Linked DNA regions of Homo sapiens. The protein of the gene in region 7 interacts with the protein of the main gene of each other region in a biochemical or structural test. Each region holds a gene or a part of one and is shown on either strand. Other genes may lie near its edges. The genes, in order: MYL2, PIN1, PRKN, OGT, DDX39B, KDM8 and PKM.

What was found.
Region 1: the proteins of PKM (region 7) and MYL2 form a complex in vitro, tested with the Homo sapiens proteins (one study listed by BioGRID).
Region 2: the proteins of PKM (region 7) and PIN1 form a complex in vitro, tested with the Homo sapiens proteins (2 studies listed by BioGRID, with this or other methods).
Region 3: the proteins of PKM (region 7) and PRKN form a complex in vitro, tested with the Homo sapiens proteins (one study listed by BioGRID).
Region 4: the proteins of PKM (region 7) and OGT form a complex in vitro, tested with the Homo sapiens proteins (one large-scale study listed by BioGRID).
Region 5: the proteins of PKM (region 7) and DDX39B form a complex in vitro, tested with the Homo sapiens proteins (one study listed by BioGRID).
Region 6: the proteins of PKM (region 7) and KDM8 form a complex in vitro, tested with the Homo sapiens proteins (one study listed by BioGRID).

The regions. Positions count from the first base shown.
Region 1 is NC_000012.12:110,914,080-110,917,579, reverse strand, and holds part of MYL2 (myosin regulatory light chain 2, ventricular/cardiac muscle isoform), read left to right. Parts: intron 1-1,789; coding exon 1,790-1,865; intron 1,866-3,255; coding exon of another isoform or gene 3,256-3,289; coding exon 3,290-3,394; intron 3,395-3,500. UniProt on the Homo sapiens protein: Contractile protein that plays a role in heart development and function.
Region 2 is NC_000019.10:9,841,818-9,845,317, forward strand, and holds part of PIN1 (peptidyl-prolyl cis-trans isomerase NIMA-interacting 1), read left to right. Parts: intron 1-3,500. UniProt on the Homo sapiens protein: Peptidyl-prolyl cis/trans isomerase (PPIase) that binds to and isomerizes specific phosphorylated Ser/Thr-Pro (pSer/Thr-Pro) motifs.
Region 3 is NC_000006.12:162,717,767-162,721,266, forward strand, and holds part of PRKN (E3 ubiquitin-protein ligase parkin), read right to left. Parts: intron 1-3,500. UniProt on the Homo sapiens protein: Functions within a multiprotein E3 ubiquitin ligase complex, catalyzing the covalent attachment of ubiquitin moieties onto substrate proteins. Substrates include SYT11 and VDAC1.
Region 4 is NC_000023.11:71,560,604-71,564,103, reverse strand, and holds part of OGT (UDP-N-acetylglucosamine--peptide N-acetylglucosaminyltransferase 110 kDa subunit), read right to left. Parts: intron 2,330-3,500; coding exon 2,204-2,329; intron 1,258-2,203; coding exon 1,087-1,257; intron 975-1,086; coding exon 858-974; intron 776-857; coding exon 605-775; intron 1-604. UniProt on the Homo sapiens protein: Catalyzes the transfer of a single N-acetylglucosamine from UDP-GlcNAc to a serine or threonine residue in cytoplasmic and nuclear proteins resulting in their modification with a beta-linked N-acetylglucosamine (O-GlcNAc).
Region 5 is NC_000006.12:31,535,504-31,539,003, forward strand, and holds part of DDX39B (spliceosome RNA helicase DDX39B), read right to left. Parts: intron 3,353-3,500; coding exon 3,260-3,352; intron 1,181-3,259; coding exon 997-1,180; intron 947-996; exon of another isoform or gene 871-946; intron 1-870. UniProt on the Homo sapiens protein: Involved in nuclear export of spliced and unspliced mRNA. Component of the TREX complex which is thought to couple mRNA transcription, processing and nuclear export, and specifically associates with spliced mRNA and not with unspliced pre-mRNA.
Region 6 is NC_000016.10:27,213,526-27,217,025, forward strand, and holds part of KDM8 (bifunctional peptidase and arginyl-hydroxylase JMJD5), read left to right. Parts: intron 1-59; coding exon 60-226; intron 227-1,077; exon of another isoform or gene 1,078-1,247; intron 1,248-1,350; coding exon 1,351-1,483; intron 1,484-2,419; coding exon 2,420-2,464; intron 2,465-3,500. UniProt on the Homo sapiens protein: Bifunctional enzyme that acts both as an endopeptidase and 2-oxoglutarate-dependent monooxygenase.
Region 7 is NC_000015.10:72,221,191-72,224,690, reverse strand, and holds part of PKM (pyruvate kinase PKM), read left to right. Parts: intron 1-2,119; exon of another isoform or gene 2,120-2,137; coding exon of another isoform or gene 2,138-2,241; intron 2,242-3,406; coding exon of another isoform or gene 3,407-3,500. UniProt on the Homo sapiens protein: Catalyzes the final rate-limiting step of glycolysis by mediating the transfer of a phosphoryl group from phosphoenolpyruvate (PEP) to ADP, generating ATP.

The DNA.
Region 1 (3,500 bases), on a different chromosome or scaffold from region 7:
GGTGTGGGTAAGGGATGCAAAGAACTCAAAACATGTAGCCAGGATTCCCCATTTGGTCTGTTTGTTTGTTTGTTTGTTTGTTTGTTTGTCTGAGTAAATGGGATTACAGGTACTCACCACCATGCCTGGCTAATTTTTTTGTATTTTTACTAGAGACAGGGTTTCACTGTGTTGGCCCGGCTGGTCTCAAACTCCTGGCCTCAAGTGATCCCTCCGCCTCGGCCTCCAAAGTGCTGGGATTACAGGCGTGAGCCACTGCACCTGGCCTAAAGCTATTATTTTTTAAAAAGCTAAAAACTGGTGTCTCATCTGGCCTCTCCACTCCCTAGCCTGCCCTATCTATAAAATGGGACCAGTAATCTATCTCAGCTGACAGTCAGGGAGATTCTCAGAACTTTATAAATGCCCAAGTGTTTTACAAATGAGGAATCACGGGCCAGGCACAGTGGCTCACACCTGCAATCACAGCACTTTGGGAGGCTAAGGTGGGCAGATCACTTGAGGTCAGGAGGTTGAGACCAGCCTGGCCAACGTGGTGAAACCCTGACTCTACTAAAGAAAAATAAGCTGGGCATTGGTGATGCGCGTCTATACTCCCAGCTACTCGGGAGGCTGAGGCAGGAGAATCGCTTGAACCCGGGAGGCGGAGGTTACAGTGAGCCGAGATTGCACCACTGCACTGCGGCCTGGGTGACATAGCAAGACTCTTTCTCAAAAATAAATAAATAAATAAATAAATAGCTTTATAGAGTTATAATTTGCATACCATAAAATTCACCCTTGAAGTGTGCAGTTTTGTGGTTTGCAGTATACTCACAAAGTTGTGCAACCATCACCACTATCTAATTTCAGAATATTTCCATCACCCCCGAAAGAAACCCCATACCCATTAGCAGTCACTTCCTGCTCCTCCCTCTCCCACCAGCCCCTGGCAACTGCTAATCCATTTTCTGTCTCCATGAATTTCCTGTTCTGGACATTTCATAGAAATTGAATCATACAATATGTGGTATTTGTGTCTGGCTTCTTTCACTGATGTTTTAAGGCTCATCCATGTTGTAACCTTTGTAGGAATTTCCCTCCTTTTTATGGCTGAATAATATTCCATTGTATGGACAGACCACATTTGGTTTATCCATTCATCAGTTGATGGACATGTAGGTTATTTTCAGTTTTGGGCTACTGTGAACGATGCTGCTATACACATTTGTGTTCAGGTTTTTTTGTTTTTGTTTTTGTTTTCCGAGATGGAGTCTTGCTCTGTCATCCAGGTTGGAATGCAGTGGCATGATCTCAGCTCACTGCAAGCTCTGCCTCCTGGGTTCAAGCAATTCTCCTACCTCGGCCTCCCAAGTAGCTAGGATTACAGGCATGCGCCACCACGCCTGGCTAATTTTTGTATTTTTAATAGAGACGGAGTTTCACCATGTTGGCCAGGCTGGTCTTGAATTCCTGACCTCAAGTAACCCACGGGCCTAGGCCTCCCAAAGTGCTGGGATTACAGGCGTGAGCCACTGTGCCCAGCCTTGTGTACAGGCTTTTATGTGGACATGTTTTCAATTCTCTTGGGTATATATCTAGCAGTGGAATGTCTGGGTCATATGATAACACGAGGCCTGACGTTTTGAAGAAACTGTTGGATTATCTTCAATTGTTGACTTTTAATCTGAGGTCCTACAATGATCTTTGAAGATCCCAGAATCCACTCCTGCCAAGTCCTTGGCCCAATCTCTTGGGCAACTCTGCCAGTTTCTCCCAGGCTGAGCTGCCAATCACTTCCCTTCCACAGGCCTTCACTATCATGGACCAGAACAGGGATGGCTTCATTGACAAGAACGATCTGAGAGACACCTTTGCTGCCCTTGGTATGTCACCCTCTCTAGCCCTGCATGAGGGTCTCTTTATCTCACATCCATGAGGAGCAGGAGGTGGGACCATCAGAAAAGCTCAAGATGGTGTCATTTCCCAAAGAAACAACTCTGCCACAACTGGTCTTTAAGACAAATTTCAGGGGATGGGAAAGAAGTGTTTAGTCTTTGAGTACCTTCAGATATCTTTTTTTTCTCTTGAAATAACTTTTTTGTGTGATTTTGAATGCAATGTCAGCTCACAACAGAAAATGGGGAAAAAATGCAGAAAAGTATAAAGGAGAAAATGACATCACCCAGAAGGTCATATTCCACTGTGAACATTCCAGTCCCTCCTCTAAGTCTTTCTAGACATGTCTGTTAGGTTTGGGTTTTAGTTTTTTAAATTATTGGAATCATTCTCTTTCGAATTTATCTTCTAAAATGTATCATCTCAACAGTGTGAGCATGAGTACATGGAGTTTCTTCAAAATATACATGCCCAATCTGCTACCCGCCACCACCACTTACTCCTGACCTTAGAACTCAGGGCAACCATACACAGCTGTGCAGACTGCGCACTGCACAATTCTACAGGGAAGTATTCACATTTGTAGTGAGTGTAGCTTTTTATACTTAAAACATACATTGGCTTAAAAAATGACAGATTTTTCTTATTTGCACAAAGTTAGGCTTGTGGCAGGACTAGAGCAGGTAAATCAGAACCTCCACGGCTGTGGGTTACAGCAGGTTTAACTTGTAAAAGTTCCCTCAGGTGATCCTGATCTGTCTCTCCCGCCTCCAACTGTGAAGGGCTAATTTACAACATGAGCCTTTCCCATTTGAGTGAAAAATGAAAATATCTGCATCAAATGTTCCAGGTTCTGAAGACACTATTTTAAATATAATGAACTGGCCGGCATGGTGGCTCACACCTGTAATCCCAGCACTTTGGGAGGCGTAGGCTGGAGGACCACTTGAACCCAGGACTTCGAGACCTGCCTGGGCAACATGGCAAAACCCTGTCTGTCCAAAAAACTACAAAAATTAGCCAGGCATGGTGGCATGCACCTGCAATCCCAGCTACTTGGGAGGCTGAGGCACGAGAATCGCTTGAACCTGGGAGGCGGAGGTTACAGTGAGTCGAGATTGTACCACTACACTCCAGCCTGGGTGACACAGCCAGACCCTGTCTCAAAGAAAAATAAATAAATAACGAACACCTTCCCACATCAGATGTTAGGGTCGCTTCCAGTCATTTGGTTATTATAAATAACACTGTCAAGAACATCTTCTCAGAAAAGATCTTTGCCTCCATCCACCCCATCTCTGATGATTTCTAGACTAGATTTCTTGAAGTGGAATCCCAGGAGCCAATGGCAGTGTCATAATGGTTCTTTCTCCCCAGCTCGGAGTCCCTGAGTGTGTGTTTCCTACCCTAGGGCGAGTGAACGTGAAAAATGAAGAAATTGATGAAATGATCAAGGAGGCTCCGGGTCCAATTAACTTTACTGTGTTCCTCACAATGTTTGGGGAGAAACTTAAGGGTAAGGTCGTGTGTGTGTGTGTGTGTCTGTGTGTATGTGTCTATGTTTCTTCGGGGGGGCTGGCAGAAGATGGTTAACTTTAAAAGAGATAAAGCACCATTGGAAA
Region 2 (3,500 bases), on a different chromosome or scaffold from region 7:
TATAAGAGTGAGCAGGAGGGTGCAGGCATTTGGGGATGGAGCGGCATGAAGTGGGCTCCTGGGGGTCAGCAGAGCAGCCAGGCGCAGGACAGAGCTGCTCCAAGCAATCCTGATGAGAGCTGGCAGAAGGCTGAGGTCGGTGGGGATAGTGAGGAGGGCATGGGTCTGGGTGTGGTGGGCGAGGGTGTCTCGCCCATCTCTGGGTTGGACAGGTGCACCTGGTAAGTAGCCAGGCCCTGAGGCGTCACCGTAGGTACCTGCAGATTCTGGAATGTCAGCAGGAGCCTTGCCTGCCCACCTGGTGGAAGCTGTGGGAGGAATTGGAGCAAGAGGCGGTGTGACTTGAACTTGGGGGCTGGAAGTGGAAGAAGAAGTGAGAGGGAGCAGACCCGAGAGAGATTCAGGAGGCAGGATAGAGAGGACTGGGTGATGGATTAGGTGGGCAAGGGTGGGATGTCTGGGGGAGGGTCAGGGCAGAACAGCGTGGCCCACCCTGGGCTCGTACAGGGCTGGATTTCAGTGCCAGCTGTGTGGTCTTCATTTCCTGAGCCTCAGTTGCCTCATCTGTAGAATGGGGAGAGGGTGGCTATGAGGATCCAGGAGCTATGGGCTCAGTGGCTGGCGTGCTCTGCACGGTGGAGCCTCAGCCCCAGTCATTGGGGTGTGGACGATGGGGGAGCTGAGGTCAAGTCAAGGCCTCTGCTCACGGGCAGCCCCTGCTGCCACCCCACAGCCCGTAGAAAGAGTTCCGGATAGGACCACAGGAGGCCTGGTGGGCTCAGCACACAGATGATGACCTTGGCACACGACCTCCCTCTCCTGGTATCCTCCTGCCTGAGACGGTGCTGGGGCAGATCTCCTCAGAGGTCGATAGGAGGATGCAGTGAGGTGGCCCCGGCCGAGGTACACTCGGTAACAGATCATCATGTGCAGTGTCGGCGCAGGCATTGGGCACCTGGGCCTCATTTTCTCTTCCATGAAGTGGATGTTCTCCCCTCGAGGGTTCATGCCGGGTGATCAGGAGACCATGATTTGGGCAGCTCACTCCCCAGCTGGCAGCCGGGCTAAATCTCATCAGTGCCCATTTAGATCTGGTGCTCCGCCCTTGCCCCGAAGGGACAGGCTGCCTGCAGAGAGAGCCGGGACCTCCACATTTTCTGCTGAGGCTCCTTTTCCCAGCATTGGCTCCTCTGCAGCTGCTGGGCCACAGCCAGAGGCTGTCAGAGATCCAAGGGAGTCATTGCCAGTGTCCTTGTCTAAGGAGGATGGGCCATGGAGAAGCCCTCCCTGCCCGCTCTCCACCCAGATCTGTTGACAGCCACCCCTCACATGCCCAGGGCCTGGAGGGTCCCAGCAAGGCTGAGACTATGAGCAGCTGTCCTACTCACATACCCATCCCAGCATCCAGGTCAGCCCCTTTGTCCTGGGGTCCTCAAGGTCACTGGCGCCCTTCCAGCCTGCTGGCCTTGGGCCAGCCTCTAGCCCCTCCTTCTGGATCTTGGTCTTCTCAGATCTGACCCTGTCACCTCTTTCCCCGACCAGGCCCCTTCCCCTCTGGTGCCTGGGCAGCCTGGGGGAAGTATGCTGGAAGCAGCGTAATGATCTGGCAAGGCAGAGGAGACAGCACGTCTTGAAACATTTTTGGGGTCAAGGACTACCCCATTTGTTCCCTCACTCCCACCTAGGTCACTGATGTGCATTAGCTTGGACTGTTGTAACAAAATATCACAGACAGTGTGGCTTAAACAACAGTCATCACTTTCCACAGTTCTGGAGGCCAGAAGTCCACAATCCAGGTTCCCTCAGATTCTGTTCCTGGCGAGAACCCACTTCCTGGCTTGTAGACGGCTGCCCTCTCACTGTGCACTCACATGGCATTCCCCAGGCGCATGTGCACGGAGTGAAGGAGCACGAGCTCTCTGGTGTCTCTTATAAGGACACTAATCCTGGCCAGGCGCAGTGGCTCATGCCTGTAATCCCAGCACTTTGGGAGACTGAGGTGGGTGGATCACCTGAGGTCAGGAATTCAAGACCAGCCTGGCCAACATGGTAAAACTCCATCTCTACTAAAAATACTAAAAAAAAAGCCAGATGTAGTGGCGCACACCTGTGATCCCAGCTACTCAGGAGGCTGAGGCAGGAGGATCGCTGGAACCTGGGAGGCAGAGGTCACAGTGAGCCGAGATTGTACCACTGCACTCCAGCCTGGGTGACAGAGCCAGATTCTGCCTCAAAAAAAAAAGGGGCGCTAATCCTGTTGGATCAGGGCCCCACCCTTATGACCTCATTTAACCCTAGTTACTTCCCCAAAGTCCCCATCTCCAGATGCAGCCACACTGGAGGTTAGGGCTTTAACACATGAATTTGGGGTGACACAAACATTGAGTCCATAACGGATGGGCAGCTTGGATCTGTCAGGGGCCTGCTCTGCAACAGCCACTGCTTAAGCGGTCACTGATTCACTCCTTGGAACAGGCTCCAACGTGGGAGCAGCGGTTACCCCATTTTACAGGCCAGTTGAGTGAGGCTCCAAGAGGTAAAGTCACCTGCCAGACTCTCATTGTTCAGGAGCAGCAGAGGTAGGATCTGGACCTGATGGAGTCTGGAGTCAGCACCCATAACATGTCCTCCTGGACCTTGGGGATACACTGTGAGCAGGCTGGCTGGGGTCTGCCAGCACAGATAGGTGCCATTCTGTTTTGCATACTATTTCAGGGGGTCCTGAACACCTTGAAGCAGGTGGAGGCCCCTGCTCCAGACTGGGAGCTCCTGGAGAGGCCACCCTGTGTCTGTGTGGTTCTAAGCTGGAGCCACATCGAATCAGGATGGGGCTCCAGCACCCGACAGTCCCCATCAAATTTCACAGGTTTTGGCGCCGTCGGGCAAGGCTGACACATTGTCTTGGAGGAGGCCCAGGAAGTCTGGCCTTAGGGTCGCAGCCTGAGTTTCAGGCAGATAGGGCATGAGATTCCAGCATTTCTGCTTCGAGCCCCGTGGTAGATCCCTGTCTCCCTCCTTCCCCATGGCCTATTTCTGTCTCATTTATTCATTAACTTCTTGAACATTCGTGAACACCTGTTTTGTGCACAGTGCTGGGTTCTGAGGGTGCAGCAATGAAGAAGGCCAACCCAGCAGCCTCCATTCCTGCACTGTGAGGCGGGCAAGCAACACACCAATGGGACGGTAGTAAATGCAGCACCCAGGGGGAGGCACCTAACACAGTGGGGGATTAGGGGAGGCTTCTTGGGGAGACCAGAGGATAGCTGATGAGTTTCAGGCAGGACAAGAGGCTTAAACCAAGGTCTGCGAGGTGGGAGTCGGAGGATGTCATTGTCGCGGGGTCAGGTACAGGCTGAGCTAACAAGACACACAGGACCAAACCCCTCAAGGTCAGCCTCACAGAGCAGGAACTCAGGAAGAAAGCGTTTTTGTTTGTTTGTTTGTTTGTTTGTTTGTTTGTTTGAAATGGAGTTTCGCTCTTGTTGCCCACGCTGGAGTGC
Region 3 (3,500 bases), on a different chromosome or scaffold from region 7:
TTTCCTGAAAACACTACTTTTATGACCAGAACATGAGCATAGTATGCTACCATTGAAAATTTATCTGACATAATTTGACACAAAAGTAGAATCCGTTTTAAATGTATTACCACAATGCATTTGTCCTGAAGATTGTGTTTATAACACATTGCTTTTCAGTATTTCCAAAACATTATACGCTTAACGCTGAAGATCTGAAAAACACAATCATAATAAAAGAAAACATCCCACAACCCAAAGATATAATTTGCCGGTATACTTCCTGATATTTTTACATATACAAATGGCCCCTAATGCTATCTAGTTTCCAGTTATGGTAACTAAATGGTCACATTAACACTTTTTAAAAAAGATCTTTCCCAATTATTAAGAACTCACACATATTTGTCCATCTTAGATCACTTAATCATCCTATCATCACTGTTTTAAGACAAAAAAAATCTTATTACTTCTAGGAACTTCATCTCAAATAGCATCCCCATCCCCTCTCTGACTGACTTTACCTGTATAACTTGCATTCTATTAAGCATAAGATGATTAAATTGGCTGCAAAAGCCAGAAGGGACTTTTAATGAATTTACACACTAAGAATTGTGACAACTATGTCTTGATCCAATATGAAAGTTTCTTAGATGTTGAATCTCCATTAAAAATTATTCCAGAGGCCAGGCGCGGTGGCTCATGCCTGTAATCTCAGCACTTTGGGAGGCCGAGACAGGTGGATCACGAGGTCAGGAGATCGAGACCATCCTGACTAACACGGTGATACCCCGTCTATACTAAAAATACAAAAAAAATTAGCTGGGCATGGTGGCAGGCGCCTGTAGTCCCAGCTACTCGGGAGGCTGAGGCAGGAGAATGGCGTGAACCTGGGAGGCGGAGCTTACAGTGAGCCGCGATCACGCCACTGCACTCCAGCCTGGGCAACACAGCAAGACTCCGTCTCAAAAAAAAAAAAATTTATTCCAGAACTGTCCCCCACAAAACAAAATAGAGTTCTAAAATGGGCAACAATGCCCAGAAATTGCCAGAACATAAAAAACAAGCACAGAGACTTGGTATAAAACTCAAGACACTGAGAATAAGATTATTTGGTGACTTCTTTGAAATCAAGATGATATAAAAGTCAATACCTATGTCAGAAGCTCTGCATGTAGTGAGACACGGCAGATGCCACACACACATACACACACACACACACGAGAAAGGGACAATGAATAATGGAGAAAACTCTAGAGAGGGACAAAAGGAAGAAATTCCAATTCCAATCATAGGTTGAGCATCTCACAGATTCCTAAATGAACAAGAGTGGAAAGCCCACAACAGATCTCTACGAAATATCACTCTCTGTATCATATGATTATGTCTAAATTGACTGCCCAATAAAACACATATACTTCCCATCTGATCCTATGAATTCAGACATATTCATGTAAAAACGTCTTTATATATTGTCACATGTAATTATACAAATTTGGTGAATATCAACTGGATCATGCAGTCTACATTTGTCTGTGGTCAGGAGCCCAGAGAAGCAGCACCTCAGAGAACATGACCTCACTTGTGCTTAAATCTGTACCTCTCACACTCTGGGAACTCACCAGAGAGCTATAAAGGACTTTCAGGAGAAAGGAGGTCGAATTTCAAGGGTGGAGAGAAGACCCAGGGCACAGGGAATATTATTCTTAAATCTGTCTAATTCTCCAAGGAGCAAACCTAACTTGCCCCCATCCTCTAGCTGCCCAGAGTTCATCATTCCTCAATTTTGTTTCAATGGAAAAAAAAAATTGTAATCAGGACTGGATTTGCCTGGAAGGAAAATGCAGAGCCAGAGACTACAAAGATTTCCATTGCAGACAATTCCCAATCTAGGGAATGTCTCCAGTAGGAGCTGTGGTGAAGCCTGGTCTGTTCCGGTCAGGCCACTCCTGTGATAACCCTCAGAAACATTACAACCCACAGTCAAGCCCTGTGGCAACAAGTAAGGAAGAAATTCACCTGTTGTTCAGACAACAGCTGCTCCTTTGAGCTGAAGAATGAAATATTAAATTCCAGCTTCTGAGAAAATCAAGGAATGTGGGTAAGAAAAAAATGAGGGGACAGAAAAGAGGGAGTGCAGGTAGATGTCAAAAAAAAAAAAAAAAAAAAAAAAACTAAAGGTTGACCTCAGAAACACAGATATTACAAATGTTCCTTCCTATTTCTCCATTTTATTAATACGAGCAAGTTTCAGGTGTCTACTTCCTATCATTTCATGATCTGGAAAATGGATCTACTCTGCGGGTACAATAAGCTTTAAAAATGACTACGCAGTTACAGAGGGCTTCATCACAAGATCTTATTTATGCACTGAAACTCCAAAAATATCTCACAATAGGAGTAACTGGCGTATTCAACAATTATGTAAATAAATAATAAAAAGTCTCAATCAGGACACCAATATTAACTCCCTAATCACCAATTTTCCCCCTCATTTGATGAGGGTAGGAGTAGAGATGTGCAAAATGGGTGAGGCTGCTAACTATTGAACATTCTCTCCTCCAAAGTTAAGGGCTCTCATGTGAAACTTTATGGGGGCCTCTGTTCAGGTCTTACAGTAAAAGTAAATTGGAGAGAATCATCAAGAAGCCATCAATACTCTTAAAAATACACACATCTGTCCATAGATGGTCTTTTTTTTTTTTTTTTTTTTTTTGAGACGGAGTCTCGCTCTGTCGCCCAGGCCGGACTGCGGACTGCAGTGGCGCAATCTCGGCTCACTGCAAGCTCCGCTTCCCGGGTTCACGCCATTCTCCTGCCTCAGCCTCCCGAGTAGCTGGGACTACAGGCGCCCGCCACCGCGCCCGGCTAATTTTTTGTATTTTTAGTAGAGACGGGGTTTCACCTTGTTAGCCAGGATGGTCTCGATCTCCTGACCTCATGATCCACCCGCCTCGGCCTCCCAAGGTGCTGGGATTACAGGCGTGAGCCACCGCGCCCGGCCCATAGATGGTCTTAATATGTGCCTAGGTATATGAGTCATGCAGATATCTAAGAGGAAGAAACTATTCTGCACTATTCTGGGTGACACGATATCCACAGCTCTGATGACATTGTTCTCTCCACACAGAGAAGAAACTATAAATAGAACCCTAAGCATCATGTTCCACATATCAAAGAAGGAGATACAAACTATTTTTGGAATACAAATAAAGCTTTAGTAACATGAAATAAAACACCTGTCAATAAGAGACATTAATCTATTCTACAAAAATAAGAACTTTTTAAAAAGAAATATGGCCTTTAATCAGAGATGATGTAATGACATATCAAATCAATGTCAACACCCTGAGAAAAGCCATCTCCTACTGCACAATTACCCTGCCATTCTCAGTCGAAGACTGTCCTCTATTAAACATTATCTGGACTTCTTTCCTTTGTTTTATGGAGTGAGTTTATAAACGCTTGTTCTCCGTAACTAGTGATTTCAAGTATTCTGTTTTATCTAAGAAGTACAATGA
Region 4 (3,500 bases), on a different chromosome or scaffold from region 7:
TGCCTTACACTCTCTTGATAGAGCTACTTATTTAAGCATGCAATATATTATTTATTGAGTACATACTACATTACTGTGATTAAGACATGGGCTCAGTAATTCAATTCAGTAGAGGATACAAACACAGGGAATTATCATCTGTTGTGCTGTATGTAATGATATATTCCAAACATTACAGAGGTATAAAAGACAGGTACCAATGAAGTAGGGATGGAGACGTTAGCGGTAAGTACGGAAATGGATTCCTGGAAGAGCTGTCTGAACTGAACGTTTGAGTAGGATTTAGCTAGGGAAAGGATGGGTTTACAGAAGCAAGAAACTGTATGGAATCTACACATAGTTCATCATGTAAGAGAGTAAAGCCACAGGCAGGGAATAACAAGATATTAACACAGCAGTTTCTCAGTAAGTAATAATCTGCTGGCTGAATCCAGGAGACTTTTAAAATCAGACACACCTATATAAGATGCACGTTTCCACTAAACTCATTTCCTCATCCATAAAAATGGTGATAATGATACTTGCCTCCTAGAGTTATCATGAGGTTAAGGGAAATAAATGCATACTTGGCGGGACATATAATGGTGTATTATTATCTTCTCACCTGAGTAGTTGCCAGTCCATTGCTAATACTGAATCCATTAATTGTTATTTGAATCTGTCCTCGGTTAATCATTTCAATAACTGCTTCTGCAATAGTATTCATAGGAATAACAGGCATATTAAGAGCTGTGTTACTGCTATCTGCATTGTCTCCTCCATCAGGACACTTCATCTGAAAAAAAAATGCATCATTAGGGAAAAGATCGTGAATGCAGTTAACTTTATTTCAATGACAATACTGACTAGGTTCTGACCTTGACAATTTTCACATCTGGTAGACTATCAAGAAATGCTTTGAGGTCGATGCCATTCAGAACTATCCGATTGTCATAAATGTGCCCATTGGACTTAAAATCGATGACTGCTTTTTTCTAATGGAAAAAATAGTTTCAGACATGTCTTTTAGGATTTACATAGACAATAGCAAGGAAATAAAAAGCTACAGTTCTTTGAAATTCGTCCATAGCACTGTTTCATACCTACCTTCAGGTGAGGGAACATATTAGCATGATCACCAATAAAAAAAGTGTGGGGCATATAAGCCAATTTCTCGGAATACTGCTCAGCAACTTCAGCTGGCGAAGTTTCCTGATCAGTGATAATATAATCCATGAAAAGCGCACCACTCGTCCCAGGGTATCCCAGCCACATTGCCTTAAAAAAATCAGATCAAAAACTGATTAAGAACTTTTATCAGTACACTTACCTCTAAATTCATCAAGTCACATACATTAAATATGTACAACTTTTTGTATGTCAACTGTACCTCAATAAAGTGGTTTTTAAAAAAAGAACCTAAAGGTGCCAAAATTAAATAAGTAAATAAACAAGGAGGTCTAACTCTTTTTTAGAGACAGGATCTCACTCTGTTCCCTAGGCTGGAATACAGTGGTGCAATCGTAGATCACTACAGCCTCAAACTCCTGGGCTCAAGCAATCCTTCTGCCTCAGCCTCCAGAGTAGCCAGGATTACAGGCACTTGCCACACGCACAGCAAGGCTGACTTCTTTAGCCGAAAGCAATGAAGCAGTTCTATAAGAGAGACTCTTACTCTGTCACCTGGGCTGGAGTGCAGTGGCATAGTGATAGTTCACTGCAGCCTCAAACTCCTAAGCTTAAGCAATCCTTCCACCTTAGCCTCCCAAATAGCTGGGATCACAGAGGCACACCACCACTCTGGCTAATTTTTTAATTTTTTGTAGAGATAGGGTGTTTTGCTTTGTTGCCCAGGCAGGACTCAAACTCCTGGTTTCAAGAGATCCTCCTGCCTAAGCATCCCAAAGTGCTGGGATTACAGGCGTGAGCCACCATACCCGGCCTGTATTTCAGACTAACTTTCAAAATGCTAAAATGTTCTTCAAATTTGCAAGACAGAGTAACTGTTCATAGCCAACCATGAATTGCATGTCTCTATATACATGTACCTATAAGCACTGTGCTCTACACTCTTTTTGTCCTGTGCATTTCAACAACTTAAAAAAATTAAAAGTATGTCTGCCCTACAGTTTCAAATATCAGTTAACCAGAGGGAGGAAAAGCAGCACCTCACTGTATTCTTAGCCAAATACATGTTATAAGTGATGACTGTTAATTTGTTTACCTGAATAGGAGCTGGCCTGAGAGCAAAAAGCTCATTTCGAGCGCCCTTAGTATAGCCATTCATATTTACAAGGATATGAATTCCATCCTGATGGATGCGATCAGCTGCTTTTCCATTGCATGGAATCTACAGAATACAAAATAAGAACTCACTATGTATAATCTCAGATCAATTAGTTTTAATGACATTTAGTTTTAATGGCATTTAGTTTTAATGGCATTTAACATAATTCAGATTCCCAGATGGAAAAGAGGTAAGAACACAAATTAACTACATTAATTCGGGCACAAATATGGTTGACTGTCATTAAAATGGGCCCAAAGCATTAAAGAAACAGAACACAAAGGAAGGAGAGTTCACTTCTGGATTGAATGTATGAATAACAACATATCACAGAGAAATTGGTATTTGAAATTTGTAATCTTTTTTTTTTTTTTGGTAGGGATGGGGTCTCACTATGTTGCCCATGATGGTCTCAAGCAATCCTTCCACCTCAGCCTCCCAAAGGATTATACACGTGAGCCACAGCACCCAGCCTAGAATTGGTATTTGAAAATAGGTCTTCAAAGACGAATAGGAGTTTGAAGGAGTTTAACAGAATACAATCTCAGTAGAGAACAGTATGAATGAAGAACTAGAGTAAAGTGTGAGGGAGTTTAGAAAATGGTGAGTAGGCCGGGCATGGTGGCTCACATCTGTAATCCCAGCCCTTTGGGAGGCCGAGGCAGGTGGATCACCTGAGGTCAGGAGTTCGAGACCAGCCTGGCCAATGTGGTGAGACCCCGTCTCTACTAAAAATACAAAAATTAGCCGGGTGTGGTGGCAGGCGCCTGTAATCCCAGCTACTCGGGAGGCTGAGGCAAGAGAATCGCTTGAACCTGGGAGGCAAAGATTGCAGTGAGCCGAGATCGTGCCACTGCATTCCACCCTGGGCGACAAGAGCAAAACTCCATCTCAAAAAAAAAAAGGGTGAGTAATTCACTTCTATTTAGTATAGGGTATACAAGATGTTGAATGGTGAGTTAAAGTATTGACAAAGTTGTGGCAAACAGAGAAAGGTTACAAAAGCTATGCTGAAGAGTTTAGACTGCAATCAATCAGCAGTGAGTCCCTAAAGGTCTCAGAGGTAGAAAGAGGTATGCTTCTTGGTCACAAAGAGTCCAACTGTGTATCAAAAATGGCCAGGTATACTTTTGAAGCAACAGCTATACTGCAAAATTTGTTAGTACATACTATTTATTAAATGAGAAGTCTCAAAACCTTTCTGCTAGGACTTCAGTGATTCATATATATATAC
Region 5 (3,500 bases), on a different chromosome or scaffold from region 7:
AAATTGTAGGAGAAAATAAGCAGGTATGATAAACAAAGATTAGAGGTAGACTTCCCAGTGAGGTGAAGATTGCTGGAAATAGTAACAACACAATGGAAAGAGCAATGGACTTGGAATCAAGAAGTGGGATCAGATTCCAGCTGTTTGTTTTAACCAAGCAAGAAATAAGGTAAAACCCCAAAGTTCCCAACTATGAAATGGGGATAAAGCCCAGTGCAGAGGCTCTCAAGGCCTTCAAAACATGCTTTATGGGACCTTCTCCCAACCCTTTCCTGCCCAAGCCCCAGCCAGCCTTCAGCAGACTACAAATATCAAGCACATATTATATTCCAGATATCAGAGTCCATCTATGACTCTCTGGATTACTTTTCTATCAAGTCAGGCAAATATGACATCCCTACCTGGAGCCCACCTTTATAGCTCACCATATAGAATTGCCAAAGATCATTTGTAATGACTTATGGGGCCTATGTCCAACCCCACTCTCATTCACCAAGATTCAATTCTTACAGAAAAATCTTCCATTAACCCCACCTGGCACACTAGAATACCACATCACACAAACTGCTACAAACACTCTCTACATTAATCCCAGACCTGAGTCTAGACACTTATTCAGCTATAAATTCTGACTGTAAATGCTGTGCTGGAGATGCCAGAAGGGTACTGTCTTCTCTTTCAGTTTAGAATCTCCGCTATGACTCCCAGTATATGAATCTATAATGAAAACGGTGGTGGTGGTGATGACTTATGCCTAAAATTATCAAAGTCCCCTATTCTCAAAGGTTAAAAACAAAAATCATAGAAAGATGATAGATGACACCCTTTACTGTGCTTAAAAGCATAATAAAGACCAACCAGGGAACCCAGAGCCATCAGTCATGGGTGATAGATAAGAGTCGTCCTTGCACTGAGGTGCTCCTGTTTCAAATAAACATCATTTGGCTCCAAAGAACAACTCCCCAGCATTAGCCAAGCCCCAGCACTGCCACTCACCGAGCTGTTCAAGCATCTTATCACATTCATCCAAAATAAAGTGTTTAATGTGTTTGAGGTTGAGGCTCTTATTTCGAGCCAGGGCTAGGATACGGCCTGGAGTCCCCACGACGATATGCGGGCAGTTCTTCTTCAGCACCTCTTCATCCTTCTTGATAGACAGACCACCAAAAAAAACAGCAACCTGCCGAGCCAGAAGCAAAGAGTCTCAAAACAGAGGAAGGAAAGAGTCCAATCCCCCCAGGGTTCCCACTCTGTTTGAGCTAAACCAATTTTTAGCATGTTTCCAAACTAAAACTAACTTTAGAGGGCACCTAATTTAAAAATTTTATGTCCCCCCCACCAAACACTGAGGGTGATTGCCTAAAGTTACATGGCTAGTCGGAGCAGTCAGGACAATAATTCAGTTCTACTGACTTAATCTAACCAACTTCCTTCATTTATGAGGCCAGGCTTCATTTAAAAAATAAAGGAGCCAGGTGTGGTGGCACACGCCTATAATTCCAGCTACTCAGGAGGCTGAGGCACGAGAACCTGGGAGGCAGAGGTTGTGGTGAGCCAAGATCCCACCGTTGTACTCCAGCCTGGGCAACAAGAGTGATACTCCATCTCAAAAAGAAATAAAATAAATAAAAATAAAATAAAGCCAGGCCCAGTGGCTCACGCCTGTAATCCCAGCAGTTTGGGAGGTCAAGGAAAGTGGATCACTTGAAGCCAGGAGTTCAAGACCAGCCTGGCCAACACGGTGAAACCCCATCTCTACTAAAATACAAAATTTACAAATTTACTACTAAAAAACAAAAAATACAAAATTTAGCCGGGAGGCTGAGGCAGGAGAATCGCTTGAACCCGGGAGGTGGAGATTGCAGTGAGGCGAGATTGAGCCACTGTACTCCAGCCTGGATGACAGAGCGAGACTCCATCTCAAAAAATAAAAAATAAATAAATAAAGGACAGCAAGAAATCACCAGATTAGTGTAAAGTACCACAAAAAACACATGGAACATTAAGGTTTCCTAAATAAACCCAGAATCTCAAACTCTTTTCACACAAACCCCATGAAATTACTGCTTCGGGCTAAATATTATCATTTCATGTTAAAACCATTAGGTGAATAGTTGTTTGGGGATCTGGGCCTTGGTACAGTATCAAATAACACCAGAAACTACTTTCTGGTTTCAAGGGGGAAAAGAACAACTGTGGAATCAGACTGTCACGACGCTAATCCTATGGTAAATCTAAAATCATTAATGAGGCCAGGTGCAGTGGCTCACTCCTGTAATCCCAGCACTTTGGGAGGCCGAGGTGGGTGGATCACTTGAGGTCAGGAGTTCGAGACCAGCCTGGCCAACATGGCGAAACCCTGTCACTACTAAAAAAAAACAAAAATTAGCCAGGCATGATGGCACACTGTAGTCCCAGCTACTCGGGGGGTTGAGGCGGGAGAATCGCTTGAACGTGGGAGGCGCAGGTTGCAGTGAGCTGAGATCGCGCCACTACACTCACAGCCTGAGGGACACAGCGAGACTCCATCTCAAAACAAATAAATAAAAATAAAATAAAATAACTAACATAAGTCGACCAGATTTGTGGCATAACAGGAGATACAGTATCACCTATGAAGGATTCTTGCCAAAAATGCTTAACTTCAATCAGATTTTTTCTTTTTTTTTGAGATGGGAGTCTCACTCTGCCACCCAGGCTGGAGTGTAATGGCACAATCCCAGCTCACTACAACCTCTGCTTCCTGGGTTCAAGCGATTCCCCTGCCTCAGCCTCCCAAGCAGGTGGGACTATAGGTGTGTGCCACCATGCACGGCTAATTTTTGCATTTTTAGTAGAGAGAGGGTTTCATCCTGTTGGCCACATTGGTCTTAAACTCCTGACCTCAAATAATCCACACGCCTTGGCCTCCCAAACTGCTGAGATTACAGGTGTAAGCCATTGTGCACTTGGCCAGAATCCTCAATATTCACACACCACTGGAGCTGTTTTAAAGTTTCCGGCTTTCTCTGCCACATACCCCAAAATTATTAAACTGATATGATTCAAAGTCAGTATAAAGTAGTAAGAAAAGGGTGGTCTTGTGTTAAGCATCATCCATAGCCCAATTACGAATCCTCCTGTTACATAGGAACTCAACACTCTGTTACACCACAGCAAACTAAAGCTTCTCCAAAATTAAAGAGACTATTGGCCTACAAGTTTCTTATCCCTCCAACTTGCCACACCCTCACTCTCAGGTCTCTTTACCTTGGCTTACCTTGACATTGGGCATGTATTTAGAGAAGCGCTCATATTCCTTGCTGATCTGAAAAGCCAACTCCCGAGTGTGACACATCACCAGTACAGACACCTTAGGCAGGAAGTAGACGGAGACATATGGTAAATGTAGCTCTTCATTATCCCCTCTAGGGAAGTGACTGTCACAAAAACACACCTGGGCCGATAATAAATGACTTCAATTATGTGATCTAAATCATGAACCCCACGCTTGCGACAGA
Region 6 (3,500 bases), on a different chromosome or scaffold from region 7:
ACCTCAAATGTCGACTTCCTGAGGTGGTTGCTATTTTGTTCTGTTTTGATTTTAAACAGAAAGCAAGGGCGGACCATGGTTTGATTCCAGATGTGAAGTTAGAAAAAACAGTCCCCCGGCTGCACCGTCCGTCCCTCCAGCATTTCAGGGAGCAGTTTTTGGTTCCAGGGAGGCCCGTGATCCTGAAAGGCGTGGCTGACCACTGGCCGTGCATGCAGAAGTGGAGGTGGGTGGTCGCTGAGGGAGGTGAGGTCCCTTTTCCCATTTTAGCGTTCCCCAGGGCTCCCTGAATTCCTCCCGACCATCCCCAGGGAAATGCAACCTTGTAGATGCTTCACTAGCAGCCCTTGACTGATTGCCAAGGGGTTAAAAAAGAGTGAAAAGTAAGGTGCTCTGAATTTATGCCGCAGGTTATGGGATTCTTACCTTCTACCTTGCTCGCCTTAAGCGGTTTTTTAATGAGTCCCTAAGTGGCAGTCCTAGAATGTTTCTGTTATGCAATTTTACAGGATCCTAGCAATTTCAGACCATCTCAGGGCCCTGAAGCTAAGAGCAGAAATAACCCAAGAGACAGCCCCTCTCTCTCTGAGGGATTCTGTGGTCTCTTGTGTTTGTTTCTAGTCCTTTCTCAGAATCATGATGGGGAGATCAGATCAGGCAGCTGGAGCGTGGCTGTCATGCCGCGGCTCTGCATGAGTTTGGAAATAAGGAGGCATCTCTCCAGGAAGGTAGATGGAGTCCGCCTGTTTTGTGGTTTCGCGGAGGGAATGGTACCCGCTGACACATGTGGAGGAATTCTCATTGCAGGAGCTCTCCTCACAGCAAGGCTTCATTAAGCATTTTACTACGTACCTGGCACTAGGACAGGTGTTGTCATCACCCCCATTCTGTAAATGGGGATCAAGGACTCGGGTTCAGTAACCTGCCTCAGATCCCCTGGCCTGTAACTGATGAGGCCTGGAATCAGTCCCAGGCTAGAGGGCAGAGTCCAGGAGACTGCCACCTGCCACGCTGTCCGCTATTTGTTCAAAGGTTTCTCAGCTTAGTGACAAAATGAGCAAAGAAAGAAGTGAGGAGGCTGTTGGCAAGCAGGGAACTAGAGCAGCCCAGCCAACCAGACTTACCGGCCCTGTCTGCAAAGCTGCACAGCACTGTGTATGAGCCACACAGCCTTGAGCAGGGAGCCCCACCTCTCCATGCCGGTTCCTCATCAGTGAAGCTGGGGATGACAGTCCTTGTCTCTGCACGTGAGGTTTTCCGAGGATGAAAGGGGACCACATGCAAAGCACACTTAGTACTATGCCCAACAGATATTAGCAGTGACGATGCCAATGTGTGTCTTTCTGCTAGTTTGGAGTATATCCAGGAGATCGCTGGCTGCCGAACTGTCCCAGTGGAAGTTGGTTCGAGGTACACAGATGAGGAATGGTCCCAGACCCTCATGACGGTCAACGAGTTCATCAGCAAATACATCGTGAATGAGGTACATCATGGGGACTGCTTTCCCCTAGTACTTGCAAGGCAGAGAGCATAGTACATTTAGGCAAATAACCCCCCATGTGTTGTAATGGGAGGTTTTGGAGGAGCCAGGCTGTAAGTCTGTGGTCGGAGGGACGACCGCAGCGAGGAAGGCAGGCTGCTTAGCCAGCAGACATGAGGGATTCATGTCAGGTCCTTTTTAATGGGCAGGGGAGTATAATTCAGTGGGTTTTAGCCTGTTCCAAAAGTTGGACAGCTAAGTCTAGAGTATGTGTATTTAAATTTTTAATAGCAGCCAGGCATGGTGGCTCACACCTGTAATCCCAGCACTTTGGGAGGCTGAGGCAGGCGGATCACTTGAAACCAGGAGTTCAAGACCAGCCTGGGAAACATAGTGAAACCCTGTCTCTATAAAAAATATAAAAATTAGCTGGGTATAGTGGTACGTGCCTGTAATCCCAGCTACTCAAGAGGCTGAGGTGGGGCAAATTGCTTGAGCCCAGGAGGCAGAGGTTGCAGTGAGCCAAGATCAGGCCACTGCATTCCAGCTTGGACAATAGAACCAGGCCCTGTCAAAATTACGACAGGACAGGATAGGACAATTTATTTTTCCCAAAAGTTAGATCACTTATACTTTCACCAGCAATTAACACAAGTGTCCATTTTCTTACATCTTTGCCTGCACTGTTTGTTGCCATTTTATGAAAATGTTTGCCAATCAGATGGATGAGATCAGTGCTTTACAAACTGGGTACCCCGGTGCTGGAGAGGTTCTTTGAAGCTGCCCCAGGGCCTCTAAGGGTTGGAGAGGACCACTCAGGATGGAGTGGAAGGGTGACGGGTGCTGCAGCTGGGGCCAGCTGGACAGCAGCAGCAGGAGGGCATCTGTCATGACTAACTGGGCTTTCTGTGTTGCCTCTGGTTTTCCCCGGTGGATTAGCCAAGGGACGTCGGGTACCTTGCTCAGCACCAGCTCTTTGACCAGGTAAGTCTGAGGCCACGCACCTCTGCCCCTCACCGTCTCACCTTCCCCTCTCCTCCCCTCCTGGGCTCAGTGCGGCTGGAGCAGTGAGCGTGAGTAGGAGGGAGGCAGCAGGTGAGGCTAGGAAGGTGACAGGACGTGGGTGATGAGGAGCCATTTTCCTAAAGTGACAGGAAACACTGGGGGGTCGCCAGTGCCCCGAGGATTGTAGGGGCTGCTATTCAGAGATGAAGGGAGCAGCTGTCGGAGCGGGTGGCTGGCTGGGCTATTGCTGTGGTGCAAGGAGAGGTGATGCTGGCAGGTGGAGCAGTTCAAGACCGGTGTGAACCACCGAGCCCTGGACGTGGGTGGATGTGTGGGGGAGGGAGGGAAGATCGGGGAAGATGCCCAGATTCAGGACCCCAAAACACTAAATAGATGGAGCTGGGGCGCCCAGGAGGGACCTGGCTGGTGTGGTGTCTGCCAGGAGTGCCCAGGAAGGCAGCCCTTGGCAGGATTCAAGGATAGGGCCAGGTGCGTGTCCCGAACGTGGAAGACTCGAGTCAGTCAGGGTCAGGGCTACAGCCAGGGGTGGGCTGGGGCCGCACCTCTGTAGCCTTTGCAGTGGGGCCCTGGGATGCTGATCAGCTGCTGTATCTACTGCTGAAGCCAGGACTGCTTCTCTGTCTCGATGGGGGACCCAGGGCCAGTAGGGGCTGTGCCAGGAGCCTTCATGCCGACATTAAAGGACGCTGGCGGTTTCTCTTCCCCAGGCCTCCCTATTAGGACCTGTGCATCCTGCGTCCTGTCCATGTCACTTGCTAAGTGAAGGAAAGGGGGATTCTAATTGATCAGGTCCCTACTGTGTGATCCCGAGACCCACCTTTCTCCTGACCCTGGTCATCCTGGGGGCATGGCCTCAGTGTGGGCTGGGGACCCTGGAAGCCATGGTTAACCTTGGCTCCCTGTCCTGGAGCAGCTGTTTCATACTTTGTAGGACAGGAGGAGTTATATTTAGGAGTAGAAGGCCAAGTTCACAGTGACTTTCAAGATGAGCCAG
Region 7 (3,500 bases):
GTGTTTCACCATATTAGCCAGGCTGGTCTCGAACTCTTAGCCTCAAGTGATCTGCCCGCCTCAGCCTTTCAAACTGTTGGGATTACAGGCGTGAGCCAACACAGCCAGCCATGGCTCAGTGTTAATGGTCAGTTCTGGGTGGTAGAGAGGCAGATGTTAAAACTTTTTTTTCTTTAATTCGTAACATAGAAGCAAACCTATAAAGGCTGCCGTAGGAAGACCAGTCATAGTAACTAGTTCAGTGCTCTTGGAGAGTTGGCACTGCCTTTCCTCCTTTATCCCCCCGACTAGAATGCAGGGCAGCCCTTCCAGTAAATGTTGAGCCAGTGCCTCACTTTGCTGAGGCCATCACCCACCTTAGTTGCACTTAAGAGGACCCTAAATCAGGGTCCCAGGTCCCTTGCTGATTTTAGAGTGTGGATATCATACCCAGAAACACCGCCCTACTTTTAATCCTAGTAAGGAGGCACCATGTCCCAGGACAACTAATGCTTCCCCCAAACCACCTCCTTCAGGCTGAAACCAGTTCTCTGCACTGAGCAGCTGGGATGGAACCAGGAAATCCTCGGCATCTGAGGACATTGAGGGGTCTCTGACTTAGGGCTTCTTCACCTGAAGTTGAGTGGTCTTTGAGGGAAGTAGGCCCATTTAGCATCAGCTGCTCTTCCCTATTCCACACTCTAGTTGGAAATAGGACCTTAGGTTCCTGTTGACAAGTCATTTACTTTCAGCCCCGAAGAAATAAAAGAGCCAAGATTTTTTTTTTTTTTTTAAAGCCAGGGAATTTTACTAGAACCTACAAGTGGGCTCATTTTGTTCTGTGTAGCCTGGTAACACCATACTGCTTTCTGCTGTGGGGCCTCCTGGGGTTAAAGTGTGGGCTTAAGACCCAGGTCTCTTAGCTAGAAGATATCTTATCCTCTGTATCCTGCACCCATATGCAAATACATTATTGTCATTACCCTTAACTATAGATGAAGATGAACAGTGCCTATTCCAGACCTTACTAGGTTCTGCTGGCCCGTCACCCATTTTGATCATGTTGCTGGCCTAGTTTGATTAGGGCAAATCTTAGAAACTCCATTTCCATTGTTGAGGAAGAGAACTAGAGAGCAGGCTGACCTGAATGCCAGCGTATCATGATGCAGACTTTCTAACGGATGCAGGTGTTCGGAAGAGTTGTGGATCGAAACGCCTTCATGATGGCTTGGAGGTGTAGGTAGCAAACTGACGTCACAGGAAGGAACACAATCTTGGGTACCTACTGGCAACGTTGGAGGGAGAAAGTGAGCATCAGGTGCCATCATTTTATAGTTGATCTATGTGATGAGGTTGGTATCGGAGCATAATTGGTACAAAGGAAAAATGACTTAGGCAGATGCAGACTCACGGGCCAGGCTATTTTATTAGGGCAGAATGATTTGGTCCTTTGTGGAAGAATTGGTGGAGTGAAGCGTGAATCTTTCCCAGCACAACCCAACAACAGTCCTGGCCCTAAGAAGTGGAGCATGGGAGTTGGGTGTGGTTCGTGCCTGTAGTCCCAGCTACTTGGGATGCTGAGGCTGGAGGATCGTTTGAGGGTGCAGTGAGCTATAATATAATATAATCACACCACTGCACTCCAGCCTGGGTGACAGAGTGAAACCCTGTCTGAAAAAAAAAAAAAAGAAAAAAAAAAAGTTGGAGGGAGGAGTGTTGGGTATTTTTTATGATTTTTGTCTCCTGGTTTCTGAAGAATGGCCAAAAAATTGTGTCTGACACAAAGGAAACTAATATAAAAAGCCAGGAGCTGTCTGAGATGAGAAAGGAAAGGGAGAATAGGGCACTTGGAGCTGAGCTGTGATTGTGCCTGTTCCAACCTGTCACTCCAGACTAAGGCCTCTTAGAGATGGTGTCTCCTTTCTCACAGAGGAGACATGGCTCTGAGGAAGATCTTACTGCAGGGGCTCGGGCTCAAGAATAAGGCTCCTGGACCTGGGCATGGTGTGTGCTGCTATCAGTGGATACGCCAGGCTTCCACTGCTGGCTGGAGGTTGGCTCTGCATGTCTGTGCCTTCCTAGGAGGAGGATGCAATAGTGAGTCAGACTGGCATGGGTGGGGCCACATGTCCTGGCAGGCACTGTCCAGGCAGCTGGCATGAGGGAGAGGAGTCTTTCCCAGAAGTCCGCCCTGAGAAACCAAGGCTGGGCTGCTCTCCTGGAGCCAGGGGAGTCCAGTGAGTGTTTTACATACAACTCTAGGTACGTGGTTGGTGGGATGGGCAGTTTGTGCTGGGAAGAGGCTTGTGGAGGATTTTGGAGAAGGCAGGAGAGCTCTGGCCCTCCCTGCAAGGGAGGCTTCAGGTCAGAGCCTGAGGAAAGACCTGGGCATGAGATATGAGGTCTCTGGCTGGGTAGAGAGCATGAAGGACACATGAGATCTGGAGTCTGGATGAACTTGCTGACAAGCAAGCTTTTTTTGACTGCTAATGCGTAAATCCACTATAGAAATTTTCATTTGTCATTTTTGTACTTATTGGCAAAAAATTAGAGCTTATAGGCATCAGATTTAATTTGAGATAGTTGAAATAGGGTTTGTGTTTGAGGCCAATATAATTTTATCTGCTAATGGCATCTCGTGGACTTGGAGGCAGCCCTTCTGTACCAGAACATTGTCAAAAGCTTTTACTGTAAAGCTTGAGAACAAACTAGTTTGCTGGATTTGGGCATGTAACTAACAGGTTTGAGGCATGGGATTATCCTGTGGACTTTTTTTTTTTTTTTTTTGCTTTGAGGTTCTGAATGTATTAAGGTTGACCTTCTTAAGCCGTTGAAACTGTTCTGCAGTACATTTGTGATGTAGGGCCTAAGACTTGTATCGTTTTTTTTTTTTAATCACAACCCAGTGTACAGAACTTGAGACATGCGTCTTTTCTCTGCCACCTTTTAAAAGCAGATTATTCTTGAAGTGCATAGAGCAGCAATTGATTAATGGAATTGGTGTCTTCACATTTCATTTACTTCCTCCCAACAATTTTATAGGATGCATATAAATATTTCCAAAAGAGGTACACATAATTTCTTACTATAAAAGTATTTTTATATTTATATCAGTAAATTTGTTAATAAAGAGGATTTTTTTTTTTCTGTAATCCTACCACCCCAATGACGTCCTATTAAAATTTCAGTATATATCCTCCCAGGTCTTTTAGGTATGTTTAATTTGGTGTCCCTTCCCCGCTCCCAAAAGGGGAGGGACCAGGTTCTTGTATAGAATAGTGGAATGTTAGTAAATCACAGGTTTAAAGAGACATAACAGTGGAATCTCTAGAGCAGCTGTCACCTGGATACCTGGTTATTAAGGTAATTTTTCCATTACCCCAAAGAGCTTTAGTTACACTCAGCTTTTTCCTTAATCCTTGTGCAGCTCTCCAGGGCACACCGTATTCAGCTCTGAGCGGTCTTTGCTAGTGAGGCCAAGGAGCCACCCTGAGCCAAAAGGGGAGCATTATGTCACCGGA